Linked DNA regions of Homo sapiens: region 2 is linked to region 1. Evidence: fine-mapped expression QTL. Tissue or cell type: whole blood. Region 1 holds a variant in brackets; the other region holds the start of a gene. All regions are shown on one strand. Distances are from middle to middle.

What was found. PIP is the estimated chance that this variant, and not a neighbour inherited with it, causes the effect.
Region 2: CAMK1 starts here. The variant in region 1 is fine-mapped to the expression of CAMK1 in whole blood (TOPMed, PIP 0.97).

Annotation. Positions count from the first base shown.
Region 1 is chr3:9,716,486-9,724,588 of GRCh38, reverse strand. CPNE9 (copine family member 9) reads right to left here. Exons shown (of 21, transcript NM_153635.3): 15 at 7,485-7,531; 16 at 6,379-6,560; 17 at 5,987-6,114. Among named protein-coding and RNA genes, the nearest start is that of BRPF1, 11 kb to the left of the region's middle. The variant GT/T (reference allele first, on the strand shown) is at 4,161.
Region 2 is chr3:9,765,948-9,774,050 of GRCh38, reverse strand. CAMK1 (calcium/calmodulin dependent protein kinase I) reads left to right here and starts at 4,104. Exons shown (of 12, transcript NM_003656.5): 1 at 4,104-4,219; 2 at 6,270-6,384. The coding sequence starts at 6,302. It also overlaps a transcript of OGG1 not described here. RefSeq lists a silencer at 4,154-4,333.

The DNA.
Region 1 (8,103 bases):
ACTAAAGAACAACTCCCCTGTGTGGAGGTCAGAAATTGAGGGAAGCAGAGTGGGCCACGTGGCTGAAGAAGCACAGAGCTTAGACCGCTCAGGGATTTATCAACCCCTGGCAAGATTTTGATGTTTATATATGAGCGAGAGCAAAGGCTGAAGGCTTCCTTGCTTCCTTCTCCCCCACATTTCTTCTCTCTCCCTTCTCCCCTCTGCCAGCCACATCTCATCGCCTGGGCTGCTGGGCCCCATGCAGTCCTCCCCCTGCCAATCTAACAGCTGCTTCCAGAGCTCCTTTTCCTTCTCTCACTAGTCTTTGAAGCCAAGATTTTTTTTCCACCTGAAAAGGACTTCAGAAGTCATTGAGTCCAGTCCCTTTATTTTGCATATTCAAAAAAAAAAAAAAAAAGACCTAGAGAGGGCACAAAGGTAGTGGGAGACCCTGGTCTCTTGACTTCCAGTCTCCAGTCCTGTGCGGACTGGAAAGGATGGAGCTGTGGCTGTCCAATAAGGTAGCCTTGGCTATTGAAATTTAAATTAATTAAATAGAGTTAAACATTCAGTTCCTTGGCCACCCTAGCTACTTTCAAGTGCCCCATATCCACATGTGGTTGGTGAGTACCATATTGGCCTGCACAGATACAGAACTTTTCCATCATTGCAGAAAGTGCTATTGGACAGTACTGTATTGAAACCTGATCTCAAAATGTGAGGAAAGGCATGGAGAGGGTGTAGAATTATAAAATAGCTTTGGGGACAGGTGGGGTGGCTCACGCCTGTAATCCAAGCACTTTGGGAGGCTGAGGCAGGAGGATCACTTGAGGCCAAGAGTTTGAGAACAGCGTGGGCAACATAGTGAGACCTGGTCTCTACGAAAAAATTTAAAATTAGCTGGGCTTGGTGGCGCGTGCCTATACTCTCAGCTACTCAGGAGGCTGAGTCAGGAGGATTGCATGAGCCCAGTGAGCCATGATGGCACCACTGCACTCCAGTCTGGGAGACAGAGTAAGACCCCAACTGAAATAAAAATAAAAGTAAAATAATAAAATAAAATAATTTTGGCTCAGTTTGCCCAGGGCCCAGAGTGGGAGTGGGTCATGATCCTGGTTTTTTTCTTTTTTTTTTTGAGACAGAGTCTCGCTCTGTTGCCCAGGCTGGAGTGCAATGGCACAATCTCAGCTCACTGCAACCTCTGCCTCCTGGGTTCAAGGGATTCTCCTGCCTCAGTCTCCTGAATAGCTGGGATTACAGGCGCCCACCACCATGCCCGGCTAATTTTTATATTGCTAGTAGAGACGGGGTTTCACCATGTTGTCCATGCTGGTCTTGAACTCCTGACCTCAAGTGATCCGCCCGCCTCGGCCTCCCAAAGTGCTGGGATTACAGGCATGAGCCACTGTGGCCAGCCATGATTCTCCTTTACATCCCCTACCCACTTCCTGAGTTCTGGCCCCAGCCTCCTCAGAGACCTGGCTTGGTACCTTTTCCTGTCACTTACTCATTTCATAAATAGCAATTGCATACCTACTGTGTATCAGGCACCACGCTGGGTGCTGAGCATGGAGCAGAATAGGATATTGTCCTTGGGGAGAGAGAGGATTAAACTACTAAAGTGTATTGAGGTTAGGGCTTTGAGGATGTAACATCTAACCTAAGTACCTGAAAAATGGGTTGGGTTTAGCCAGGTGGTGATGGTGGTGGGAAGGTAAAGGGAAAAGTGTTCCAGAGAAAGAGAATGGCAAGTGCAAACCACGAGGAGTTACATGTAGAACTACAGCGGAGAGGCTGGACCTGGTGGCTCACATCTAAGATCCCAATGCTTTGGGAGGCTGAGATCAGAGGATCCCTTGAGCCTAGGAGTTTGAGACAAGCTGGGCAACATAGCGAGACCCTGTCTCTACGAAAAAATAATAAAATTAGCCTGGCGTGGTGACATGCACCTGTGGTCTTAGCTACTTGGAAGGCTGAGGTGGGAGGGAGGATCGCTTGAGCCCAGGAGTTCAAAGCTGCTGTGAGCTGTAATGGTACCACTACACTCCAGCCTGAGTGACACAGTGAGAACCTGTCTCTTAAAAAAAAAAAAGAACTGTAGAAGACAATGGGCATCATGGAAGGGTTTGGGGGCACAGGAGGTACATCTTTGGTTCTCTGTAGATGCCTTGCATTCTCAAGGCTGTTTTTATCTGGAAGTTAGCTGAGAAAATGGGTGAGTGGCCAGAGGAGGCCAGTCTATGCCTCACTTGGCTGTAGAGTGGGAAACAGCAGAGTCCATTGTGATCATCAAAATCACAGATGTACACTTGACATACATGATCTAATTTAATCCTCACCGCCATTCTATAAGGTAGGCGCTTTAAAAGTTCCTATTTTTATGGCCGGGGACAGTGGCTCATGCCTGTAATCCCAGCACTTTGGGAGGCCGGGTGGCGGGGGGGGGTGGATCACCTGAGGTCAGGAGTTCGAGACCAGCCTGGCCAACATGGCGAAATTCCGTCTCTTCTAGAATACAAAAATTAGCCGGGCATGGTGGTGCGCACCTGTAATCCCAGCTGCTCATGAGGCTGAGGCAGGAGAACTGCTTGAACCCAGGGGCAGAGGTTGCAGTGAGCTGAGATCGTGCCACTGCACTCCAGCCTGGGTGACAGAGTAAGACTCCATCTCAAAAAAAAAAAAACTAAAAACAAAAAACAGTTCCTATGTTTAAAATGAGGAACCTGAAGCTTAGAGACATTAAGTAACATCCCCAAGGGGTTATGAAGCTGGGGTCCAAGCCCATGCCTGACCAGCTGAGCCTGAAGCTGGAGCTCTTGATTCTCTCACTCTCTATCCCCAGTCCATTATCTGGATAGTCCTCTGTACACAGTGCGCACTCTAGTCATATTAAACTCTTCACTGTTTCATGAACTTGCCCCTTCATGCCTCTGTTTTTCATATGCCATTCCTTCTACCAGGCCTACTCTGCTTCTGTTTCTCTCATAAAGTCTACCTCGTCCTCTAGACCCAGCTGAGCAGTCCCCTTTATGGTACTGGAGCCTATGCCCTACCCCCTCCCTCTAGGATACTGCTCCACCCACCAAGATGGGCTGTCTGCTCCTCTAAGTGGGTTCTCACTGCATGATCTGCTGGATAAAGCTAGATGACTATAAGTACATAAGACTATAAGTACTTAAAACACCTTTTTTCTCTAAATTAAACAGGGATGCAATGTGAGAAGAATATAAAATTTGCATGAATTTTTAAGATGAAATACGGAAACTTCAAAGACATTTTCAGCCTGACTGCTTTCAGCTATGCCCCCAGATTCCCCCAGAGGGACGCTGTCGCTTGCCTTTGCTGACAGGCGACTTGCTAGAAAAGTCTGGGAAGCTCTGGTCTACAGAAGGTAATGATTTATTTATATTTCTGTCTCCTGCACCAAGGCGGGAGCTCCCAAGGGGAGGGACTAGATCTGATTCATCTGTGAATCTTCAGTGCCCCAGCAGAGAACTGAGCACACAGCAGATGCCTTTTGGATAGTAATAATGATAATAATAGTAACAGTAATAGCGAACACCTATAGTATTTATGATGTGGCAGGCACTGTTCTAGGTGCTTGACATATATTAATTAGTTAGTCCTCACAACAACCCTATGAAGTAGACATTGTTACTTTCCTCATTTTACAAATGAGGAATAAGGCGCAGAGAGGTTAAGAATCTTGACCAAAGCCACAGCTAGTGAGTGATAGAACCAGAGTGTTAACTTGGCTAGTCTGGCTCCGGACACCACACTCAATGGTGCATTGCCCCTTTACTGAATGTTTACTAAATGAATGAATAAATTTTGAATTAGTGTAGTTGCATAAGATAATATTTAAGAAGTCAGCTTAATAACAACAAAAACATGCTCAGGTTCCAGTATTAGTGAAAAAAAAATCAGTAGTGAAATGTTATATGTATAATAATTTGACTATAATTATGGATACATAAGGAAAAGAACTGTATATACATCCACATTCCATGGGCAGTATTCAGGGTGATTTCTTCATTTCTCTATTGAAACTTTCTACGGTTATGATTAAAGAATCTATTATCATTACTGCAAATTAGAAAATAAATCTACTAGAATTAATACCTGAGTGATGAAATAATCTGTACAACAAACCCCCATGTGTCACATGTCTCAAGTTT[GT/T]TATGTAACAAACCTGCACATGTACCCCTGAACTTAAAAGGAAAGTTAAAAAAAAAACAAATCTTCGCTAGGGGAAAAAGTCTATGGACATATAAATCTCACTGAAATCCTTTCACTTTTATTCCCTTTTTGTTTAATCTTTTTACTTCTGAGCTTTCTGAGGGGCTTTGTGTTAGCTGGGTTTCTTCTGTTTACTATAAAGTGGGGTTTGCTTATTTTTTGTTCAATCAAATAATCTTTTTCTTTTTTAAGGTCAAACAGAGCTTATTTATGTTTATTGACATATGTTTGATTTTAGTTCTGTCATTTCATAAATTCGTTTTAAGTTTATTTTAATACCCTCTGGTTTTTTAAGCCATTTGATGTATGATCTGGGTTTTCTTTGGTTTGTGTGTGTGTGTGCATATATATATATATGTATATATATATATTTTTTTGAGACAGAGTCTTGCTCTGTCGCCCAGGTTGGAGTGCAGTGGTGTGATCTCGGCTCACTGCACCCTCTGCCTCCCAGGTTCAAGCAATTCTCTGCCTCAGCCTCCCAAGTAGCTGGGATTACAGGTGCCCACCACCACGCCTGGCTAATTTTTGTATTTTCAGTAGAGACGGGGTTTCACCATCTTGGCCAGGCTGGTCTTGAACTCCTGACCTCATGATTCACCCACCTCGGCCTCCCAAAGTGCTGGGATTACAGGTGTGAGCCACCACACCTGGCCTGCTTTGTATAGTTTTATTCTGAAAATTTGGACAGTCACTCATCTAGTTTTTAACTTATCATTTATGGAGCATGTACCATGGGCCAGACACTGTGCTAATACTTGTTACACTATTATCTAATTTTAACCTTGCAATAACTCTATAAGGAAGCTGCTATTGTCATCCATTATGACACCACCTTACAGGGATGAAATGGATGCTTAAAGAGGCGAAGTTGCTTAAGGTCAGATGGTTAGTGAATGGTGGAGGAAGGATCCCACTCAGATCTGATGCTAAAACGTACGCCTTCACCACAGTGCTGTAGGCTCTTCTCTCTCTTACCCAAACTCAAGCCCCAGCTTGTCATTCTCAGGCAGTGGGGTTAGGGTAATTTGCTGACACCCTTTGTGCCGCATAATAAGGTACAGTCATCCCTCAGTATCCACGGGGGATTGGTTCCAAGACTCCTGTGGATACCAAACTCCTCAGATATTCAAGTCCGTCATATAAAATGGTGTAGTATTTGCATATAACCTATACACATCGTCCTGTATACTTTAATTTTTTTAATTTAAATATTTAATTTAAAAAAATGAGCCAGGCATGGTGGCATATGCTTGTAATCCCAGCACTTTGGGAGGCTGAGGCAGGTGGATCACTTGAGGTTGGGAGTTCAAGACCAGCCTGGCCAACATGGTGAAACCCCGTCTCTACTAAAAACACAAAAACGAGCCAAGTGTGGTGGCATGCGCCAGTAATCCCTGCTATTTGGGAGGCTGAGGCAGGAGAATTGCTTGAATCTGGGAGGCGGAGGTTGCAGTGAGCCGAGACCATGCCACTGCACTCCAGCATGGCAACAGAGCAAGACTCTGTCTCAAAAAAAAAAAAAAAAAAAAAGAGATGGGGTCTCACTAAATTGCCTAAGTTGGTCTTGAACTCCTAGGCTCAAGTGATCCTCCTGCCTCAGTCTCCCAAAGTGTTGGGATTACAGGTATGAGCCACCATGCCTGGCCTCTCCTGTTTACTTCAAATCATCCTAAATTACTTAGAGTGCTCCTGACTATCCTTGGGGGGTCAATCCCTTATGTGGGTCCCCTCATTTCCCCCAGCTTCCACCCAGTTCCCTTACCTGGCCACTTGGTTGATGACAGGAGCAAAGTAGGTGGGCCCATAGAGCTGCACTGTGCGCAGGCTCTGGAAATAGCTCTCCAGCACACCCTCGATGCCCGCACAGTTGGGGTCCTCATCATTGTTGTTCTGTCAAAGAATATGCCCTGCCAGGCTGAGCCCATGCAGGGTACATGCAGGAGTGCTCTGATTCCAGCTCACTCCTTCCTTTTTCCATCAGTCCCTTTCATGCTCCCCTCCAAACCCAGCCCTGCTCCCCTCCCTGCTCTGCTATCCTCTCATAGCTTCCTGTTCCTCTACATGCCCTTTGAAGTAATGTAAACAGAACAAAATCATCAACTTGGGTGAACCAGATGCCAGGGCACGGAGGGTAAGCTCTGGCCAATACCATACCAGGGGGAACTGGTGGGAGATCCGTCCCTCTGGGGGCAGCTTGGCCCCAAAGCCATAAGCTGGGAAGAGCTTATCACTGTCATAGTCCTGGATGATCTCTCCCACTGCCTTGAGGGCCATGGCATAGGCGCTGAGCTGGTAGGGACTCATGTAGTGCAGGGAGGTAGGCTGCAGAGGATTCCCTGTAGGGACACAGGAACCCCAGCCTCATGATCATCTGGATCATCCATCTGTTCACCTGCTTATCTTTGTGTGCATTCATCCACCTATATCCATTTATCTGCCCTCTACCCATGTCCTCCCTCCTTATTTTACCCAATCATCCATTTGTTCATTTATCCATCTATCCACCCACCCATCCCTATATCTATTCATCCATTTACCTACCTACCCACACATCCATCCACCCATCTACCTAGCCATACATCTATCTTTCAGTCTACTTATACATCTTTATCCACCAATCTCTCCATTCTCTTATGCAGCTATCCACTTACCCACTCATCCATCCATCAGTCCATCCATCCATCCATCCATCCACCCACTTGTCTACTTGCCATTTTTCTTCATTTTCCACCCATCTATACAACAGTATTATTTTATCCATCCGGCTAGCCAGCCCTCTCCATTCCATTCATTCCCTTGTCTATTCTCATATGGATCTATCCACTCATGCATTTCCCCTAATTACTTGTTATTTCCCCAACTTAAACTTTAGTCCATTTGTCCACCCACATACCCATCGATGCATCTACTTGTCTAACCTATTATACTCACCAACCCATGTACCCACTCCATTTGTTCATGGATCTATGCATCCATTCATGACTCACCACCTGTTCACCTCTCCATCTCTCCTTATACCCCCTTTCTCTCTCATCCATCAGCCTACTCATCCACCTGTTGAGCTATATATCCTTTCAACCCTCTATGATCCATCTACCCATCTATTTTTCTGCACTCTATTTTCCTGGCTGGGTTTTGCCTAAGTTTGGGCTTCTTGGGTAGGTAAACTCTTATCTCTAGGTAGGAATCCAGGCCAACTCCTAATGACTCCCTTAGAAGTGCCTTCCCACCTCCGACTTTTTCACTCATCCGTGTCTCACCATTGGAAGCCGTGAAGTCAATGGCTACTGTGAAGTTCAGCTGTGTCCTGTTGGGGAAGCAGATGAATTGAGAAGTGAGGAACTAATGATTATTACATCACTATTTCTCAAACAGTAATGTGCATATGGATCACGTGGGGCTCATGTTAAAATGCAGATTCTGATCCAGATGGTCTGGGTAGAGCCTAACAAACTCCCAAGTAATGCTGATGCTGCTGGCTCATGGACTACACTTTAGGTAACAGAATTAAATGCCTACTGTGTGGCAGGTGTATTATATGTCATTTAATTTAACCCTTACTATAGCCCTGAAGTAGTGATTAATATCCCCATTTGGCTGGGCGCCGTGGCTCACGCCTGTAATCAGCACTTTGGGAGGCTGAGGAGGGTGGATCACCTGAGGTCGGGAGTTTGAGACCAGCCTGACCAACATGGGGAAACCGCATCTCTACTAAAAATACAAAAAATTAGCCGGGCGTGGTGGCGCATGCCTGTAATCCCAGCTACTTGGGAGGCTGAGGCAGGAGAATTGCTTGAACCTGGGAGGCGGAGGTTGCAGTGAGCCAAGATCGCACCATTGCACTTCAGCCTGGGCAACAAGAGTGAAACGCCATCTCAA
Region 2 (8,103 bases), 49 kb before region 1:
ACTCTTTCAATAGCTTCTTTTCTGTCAGGTTCAAGAATTCATGGAGGCCAGCCATACTGGCTCACGCCTATAATCCCGGCACTCTGGGAGACCCAAGCAGGAGGATCACTTGATTCCAGAGTTCCAGAGAAGTCTGGGCAACAGAGGGAGTAGAGACCCGATATCTACAAAAAATAAAAAACTAAAAAAAATTAGCCAGGTATGGTGGTACACACCTGCAGCCCCAGCTACTCCGGAGGCTGAGGTGGGATGATCACTCCAGCCTGGGAAGTCAAGGCTGCAGTGAGCCATGATGGCGCCGCTGCACCACAGCCTGGGTGACAGAGTGAGGCCCTGTCTCAAAAAAATAATAAATAAATAAATAAATAAAAGAATTGATGGAGATGTCTGCACTGTTTAGCCATTCAAAAAAAAAAAAAAGAAGAAAAGATCATCCCCCTTTTCCCTGAGAACATTTGACTTTCCTTGACTCACCTTTTTTTAAATTATTATTCATTTATTTATTTTTGAGACGGAGTCTCGCTCTGTCGCCCAGGCTGGAGTGCAGTGGCGCGTGGTCTCTGCTCACTGCAAGCTCTGCCTCCCGGGTCCACGCCATTCTCCTGCCTCAGCCTCCTGATTAGCTGGGACTACAGGCGCCCGCCACCACGCCTGGCTAATTTTTTGTATCTTTAGTAGAAATACAAAAGATAACAGGGTTTCACCATGTTAGCCAGGATGGTCTCGATCTCCTGACCTCATGATCCACCCGCCTCAGCCTCCCAAGGTGCTGGAATTATAGGCGTTAGCCACCGCACCCAGCCACTTTTTTTTTTTTTTTTTGAGATGTAGTCTTGCCGTGTCACCCAGGCTGGAGTACAATGGTGCAATCTCAGCTCACTGCAACTTCCATCTCCTGGGTTCAAGCAATTCTCCTGCCTCAGCGTCCCAAGTGGCTGGGGATACAGGTGCATGCCACCACACCCAGCTAATTTTTGTATTTTTAGTAGAGACAGGGTTTCACCACGTTGGCCAGGCTGGTCTTAAACTCCTGACCTCAGATGATCTGCCCACCTTGGCCTCCCCACGCCTGGCCCTTCACTCACTTTTTGATTAGTACTTTGAAATGTGCTCATCGGGACTGGGGGCTGCAGAAGGATGTATATGTATACGCATCCAAAAAATCTGGAAGAATTGTACTAAAAATGTGAACACTGGTTGTCTCTGGTTGGTGGGGGCCCGGCTGAGAGTGTTGTGTTATTCTTGCCTCCCTCGCACCCCTAATTCCTTTGGACAAGATACCTCTTCCATTCCTTATGGCTGCCCATTACAGTACACTTGCTCAATATAGCACCCTAATTCTCCTGGCAACAGTTTTGGAGGCCAAGGGGTGAACATGTCACTCTATCACTCAAGCAGAGCCAGAGTCCTTCCCTGAGAATGAGATAGGAAATTGGGAGGATGCTTTCCTTCCACTGTGTTTAATTGGAAAGCTGGGGCTGCCTCACTCCATGTTTCCTGCCAACTAGAAGTTCACTCTGGAGAGAAAAAGAGGCCAACGTGTGAAGAAAAATCAAGACAAGGAGAGAGGAGGGAAGACAGAGAAAGCAAATCCTATGAGTACTACATCTCCAGTTCCAGTCTCCAAGCCCCTAATCTCTGGTGTTTTTCCTGCAATCTTGTGCCAGCTATTGTGAACTATAGATTCCTCTTGGATGAAGCTGGTTTAGGTTGGCATTCTGTCACTTGGGAAGCGAAAGAATCTCATCAGTTAGTCTGTGTGTGTTTTCAATACATTATGGAATTTTCCTGCAATGACCATGTATCACTTGTTCAATAGAAATACTAAGAAAGTAAAGATAATGTGTTTGTTAAAGAAAAGAAAACACGAGGCCTCTCAGAAATGCTCAAAAGCAGGAAAAATGTAAAGCACACCATAGAAGCTGTACAAGTCAGCTGGGCGCGGTAGCTCATGCCTGTAATTCCAGCACTTTGGGAGGCTGAGGCAGGTGGATCACCTGAGGTCAGGAGTTCGAGACCAGCCTGACCAACATGGTGAAACCCCCATCTCTACTAAAAATACAAAAATTAGTTGGGCGTGTTGGTTCACGCCTGTAGTCCCAGATACTTGGGAGGCTGAGGCAGGAGAATTGCTTGAACCCAGGAGGCGGAGGTTGCAGTGAGGCGAGATGGCACCATTGCACTCCAGCCTGGGCAACAGAGGGAGACTGTCTCAAAAAAAAAAAAAAAAAAAAAAAAAAGAAGTTGTACAAGTCCTCGAAAGGACAGAGGTCATCTTATCACCCAGGGGGTGTTGTCATCAAGATGAACAGGAATTTGTGGTAAAAGAACCCCTAGCTCAGTGGGTGTGCTTGGTGGGTATAGGGGAGAGTGGGGGCTCAGCCCTGAGCAGGAAATGTATTTTTCCATGAACTAAGGAGTCTGAGATACTGAGATTTGGAAGATGGATCCCTTAACCCCTCATCCCTGGCCAAATCAAGTCCTCTCTCTGAGTCTCAGTTTACACTGAGTCTAGCTCTCATGTTTTGAATAGTGTTCTAGGCACTTCATATCATTATATCATAGAATTCTCAGAACTCTGAGTCAATCTTCAATATTCCCATGTTCCCGAGTAAGAAACTGAGGTTCGGAGAGGTAAAGCATGACCAGGATCAGTTAGACTCCAAAGCCTTTCCAGGAACCTCAGCTATCTTCCTCTCTCATCTGTAAGATGGGCATAATAAATTGGCCAGGTGCAGTGGCTCATGCCTGTAATTCCAGAACCTTGGGAAGCTGATTGGGGAGGATTGCTTGAGCCCAGGAGTTTGAGACCAGCCTGGGCAATATAGTGAGATCCCCATCTCTACAAAAAATAAAAAAGCCAGGTGTGGTGGCACGCACCTGTAGTCCCATCTACATGGGAGGCTGAGGTAGGAAGATGACTTGAGCCCAGGAGTTTGAGGCTGCAGTGGGCCGTGATCATGCCATTGCACTCCAGCCTGGGTGACAGAGCAAGACCCTGTCTTAAAAAAAAAAGAAAAAGAAAAAAAGAAGAAGAGAAAGAAAGAAAAAAGAAAGAAAGAAAGAGAAAAAGGAAATGAGCTGGGCATAAGCACTGTTCTCTCCCCATCACCAGCTGGAACATGCAAGAATTCAGGAGTAGGGAGTGGCACTTGGAGGCCCTTGGAGGTGGAGTGGGGTCCCAAGCAACGTGCCTCCTCCGGCTGCCCCCAGTTCAGCCCCATCCCCAATTCCTGCGAGTTGCTCCCCCCGCCCCCTCTTTCCACTCGGCACCAAATTTCTTCCCAAGGAAGGCCTTGAGCAAACCGACCTTTGGCCTCTTGCCTGCCGTCCTAGTTGCAGGCTCTCTCCCCTAACCTGGACCCCAGCCATCAAACTCTGGAGCCCCGCCAGTCACGTGACACCTCGGTCCTTTTTGGCCTGTTTCCTTCAGGATCCCGATTTAACTTCCTCCTCCCCAATTCCCTCTGCCCCCAATACCTCTAGGCACCACCACCCGCTCTGAGGAGCAAGTGTCTGGGGCTGAAGCCTCAGCTCCATCTTGCAGAGGAACCGGGGCCTCAGTCTTCCCACCTGTCAAGTGGGGCCCACACCCTGCGACCACCTCCACTCTCTTCATTGCCTAGTCTTGCCCGGTCCTTCCCCACTCCCTCACTCCCCCATCCCCCACCAGACTCCCGTGCAGTTCCAGGGCCTGTTTCCCTTCAGGGCACGGAGAAGGGAGACAGAGCCCTAAGGGAGGTCGCAGAACTGGTCTGAAAGAAAATCCACCAGGCCACAGGGTGAGTTTGGCCGGCCTCTAGCTTCAGACAGACGGGGTTCGAATCCTGCTTTGCTTCCGACCACCCGCTGATTTGAAAATCATCTCTCCGGGCCTCAGTTGTCCCCTCTGTGAAATGGACCCCGCTTAAGACCAAGGGCGGGAAGCGTCCAGCAGGAGATCTCTGACCAGAAGCAGGGAGATGGCCTCCACCCGTGCCCCTTCCCCAGCCTTGGAGCGGTGCCTCGCCTCCCAATCCCGGGTCCCTCCGCCGCAGGCTCCACCTCCACTGACATCAGAGCCGCAGGCGGGCGGAGAGAGCCGCCGAGCCGAGCCGAGCCCCAGCTCCAGCAAGAGCGCGGGCGGGTGGCCCAGGCACGCAGCGGTGAGGACCGCGGCCACAGCTCGGCGCCAACCACCGCGGGCCTCCCAGCCAGCCCCGCGGCGGGGCAGCCGCAGGTACAGCCGGGCCCCCCATCCCTGCACCCCTGGGCGCTGCGTGGGGGCGGTGGGAGCCCCTAGCCTCTGGGTATCCTTTCCCAAGGAGTGGCCACTGGGCACTCTCCCGGGCGGGCTGGACCCTGAGGGGCAGGGCTGGGCCTTTCTCCACCTCTGTCCCAGGCCCAGCAGGTGCCAGGCGGGCCTATGGGACACTGAGTGGGTAATAGAGAAGGGGGCCTGTGTGAGCGCCTTCAGCTGGGCCTGACTGGAAGGGCGTGGGCATTTGGAGGTATCCATGGGGTGGGGGGGCTTGCGGAGTGTACTGTCTTAGGACAGGCGTGTGGGTCAGACATGGGTGGAGGATCTGGGAATCTGTGTGTTTTTTGTTCCAGAGGGGTGTCCACGTGTTTTGTGTGCTGGTATTTGGCTCTCAGGGTCTTAAGTCAGAGTTAGGAGGGGGTGTACAATTGTGTACTGAGGATGTTTGGAGTTAGGTGTGTAAGGACTTGGGGTTTGGTTTGGAATACAGGAGCTTCCAGGGGATGGGGTAGAGGAGCTGGAGGGTGTAGGGTACGTCTGGTATATGAGGGTGTGTGTGTGTGTGTCTGGGTGTCATCTTGTGTGGGTGCGGGTGGATGTGTGTTTTGGGGTGTAAGAGGGAGCTGGGTGAGGGATGTTTGGATGGACAGGCAGGTGTTCGGGTGCAGGGCTGTCTGGGGCACTGTGTGGTGTGGACATGTGTGCTGATGTCTGGGAGTACATGTATGATCAGGTGTCACGGGATGTGGATACAAGGCGTACTGGATCTGGGAGGCAGGTGTTTGAGTTCAGGGCTGTGGAGGGGGCTTGGTGTGGCATGTCTGCTACAGGGATGTGTGTGGATCTGTGAGGGTTGTATTTGGTAGGCCTCCATGTGGGTTTCAGACTCTGCCTCTAGAGCTTACACTCGAGTCTCCTTTCCTAGAAGATTCTGCCCCTGGATGGGTGGGCAGGGTCCCCTGGGAAAAAGGTCCTGTTCCAGGAGTGGAATCTCACACCAGAGGCCCTAGTCAGGGCACCTTCTCCTCATTCTCCCTTAGAGAAAAAGAGAGAAGGAAAGTGCTCTCCCTGAGGTCACAAAGCATGCTGGGCTCTGTTTTGGCCTCATCTGTGGATGGGTTGGGAGGCTGTGTTCTCTGAATGGGGCCCATTCTGGCTTCATATTGGAAGTACCAGCCAAGGCCATTCGATGGCCTTTGCCCTCAGCAAGCTTAGCTGGGGGCCCCAGGCCAGGTGTCATTAGGGCCTCTGGAGCCAGCCTCTACCTAACTCCAACCTCAGTCTCCCCATTCTTCATCTGATAAATGGGAGAGAACTCCCACCCTCTCCTGCTGGATGAGACAGACCTCAGCAGAGGAAGGGCCAGGCTGGATAGGGTTAGATGGGGCCAGGAAGGGACAGAGTGAGCAGGACCATTTCTCATGCTCCCGGGACCCAGATGGGGAGTCAGGAGGGAGAGGTCTGGGGAGCTCCAGCTGTGGCTGTTGTTGCTGTGGTAACAGTGCAGAAAGAGCTATTTAAAAATGTGGCTGAGATGTTGCTGGAAGCCCAGGCTGCTGGAAACCTGATTTCGGAGAGGCCGGGGAGTCGGGGGAAGGAGGAGGGAAAGGAGACACCCCAGCAATCCCCAGGGTGGGGCGGGGACATCACTGGTTCTGGGGACAGGGGGATCCTCCAGGCTTCTACCAGCTGCTCTGGGGGTTTATCTGTTGTACTGCCAGAAGTCAGGGTTTCCCTAGGTGCTTGGATTTGGATAGGGGGAAAACTGGGAAGAGAACTAGAATAAATGAATGAATGAATGCATGACTTTGTTAAATAAAGAATTTTGCTGCCACTGTGAAAGGTTTTTCTCTAGGCATGAGAATTTGCTGAATGTTGAATAAACAAATGAATGTTTGTTGAATGATTTTGTCAAATGGATGAATCAAGGATGAATAAATGCAGGTTGAATGACTGAATGGGGCCTGCAGTAAATTCCCAGACAGAGGGCTGGGCTCTGCTGAGTCTCCTCCTTCCATTCTCCTTACAGGAGCCCTGGCTGTGGTCGGGGGGCAGTGGGCCATGCTGGGGGCAGTGGAAGGCCCCAGGTGGAAGCAGGCGGAGGACATTAGAGACATCTACGACTTCCGAGATGTTCTGGGCACGTGAGTCCAGGGCAGGATTGGGTGCTGGATGGCTGAGGGAGGCTGAGTCCAGGGTGGGGCTTCCTCTGGTCAATTAATGCTTCCTGTTTCCCACAGCCCAGGCCCTGTGGCAGCACTATCTAGGGCCTAAACTGTCCCCAGCTTTTCACTTCTGGATGACAGTGGGTGGGACACGGGCTGCTCTCCCAATAGCCCTGGGTTCTTGAAGAGAAAGAAGTCGAGAGAATGAAGGTGCCAGTCAGTCCATTTAACTTGCTGCCAAGAGCTAAGTGTTCTAGCCTAGGTTTGGGAACTGAGGCTGGAGATGGCTCTGTTCTTGGTGCTGGGAATGCAGAAATAACTCAAACCTGGTCTCTGCCCTTCAAGTTGATCCCAGACATGTGCAAGAGACAGACCTACAGAAAATGACAACAGGGTGTGTGCTGTGCTCCAATTAAGGTTGGGATTGAGGGCTTTGTGGAGCCCAGAGAGAGCTGTGCCTTCTGCCTGGGGGAAAACTTCCTGGAGAATGGGGCATTAGAGCTGGGGACTGAAGGATGGGTAGGTGTGCACTTGTCAGAGAGGAAGAAGGACATTCCAGGCAGAAGGAATAGCATAAACAAAGGCTTAGAGGCATGGTTCTATGTGGAGAGAGGTAGAGTGTGATGGAGCTTAAAATCACAGGCTGGGGGGAGAGTGGAAAAAGGGGCTGGAGATGAAAGTGGGACAGTTTGTGTAGGGTTTTGGAAGCCAGGCCAGGGAGGCTGGATATTGTCCCATAGGCCACCGGGAGACACTTAAGACTTTTTGGCAGGTGTGCAATTCAGGATAGTCACTCTGGCCACAGCTTGGAGGGTAAATTGGAGAGGGACAAGACTGGAAACCAGTGATGAGGTTACTACAGTAACTAATTATCCCTGAGGATTGAAATTTCACCACGAGAGATGCTTTTCTTTGACTTATGACTTCTTATTCTCCCAGAGAAAGCAAACAGATGTGGAAAGAATACCCTAGCAAATCCTCTTTAATCAGTTAACTTTAGTTAAATGAGTTTATTTGTTCCTTTTTAAGAACCTGTTCTAAAACACTGCTTCTTAAAGTTCAATGAGCATACAAATCACCTGAGGATTTTGTTAAACTGCAGATTGATTTAGTAAATCTGGGGCAGGGCCTAAAGTTTTGCATTTCTTTTTTTTTTCTTTTTTTTGACCCAGGATCCAAAGCAGTAGAGATTTTGCATTTCTAAAAAAGTTCCCGGGTGATGCTGATGGTTCTTTAAGGTTCTAAAGGGTGTTAAATTAGCCATGACTCGAATTAGCAGAAAAAGGGATGAACCAACTGTACACATAATCCAAAAGCCCAGGGGTAGACCTCAGGCATGGCTGGATCCAGAGGGCCACATAATGTTATCAGGAAATATATTTGGCCATTTCTCAGGTTGGACTTCCTTTGTGTTAATTTCATTCCCAAGCAGGCTCTCCCCAGGTGGTGGCAAAGATGATCGCCATTAGCTCCAGGCTTACATCCTACCAGCTCAACAGGAGACTCATTCTCAAAGTGCTAGTAAGCTGGCTTGCATCACATGACCAATTACTGTGGCCAGGGGAGAGACTACTTTGACTGGCCAGGCCTGGGTCATGTGACCATCTCTGGAGCCAGGGGATGGATGAGTGACTAGGGGAGGGTCATCCACGTCCTTGGTCCAGCAGTGGTCACAGAACCCATAGGGAATGGAGGAGA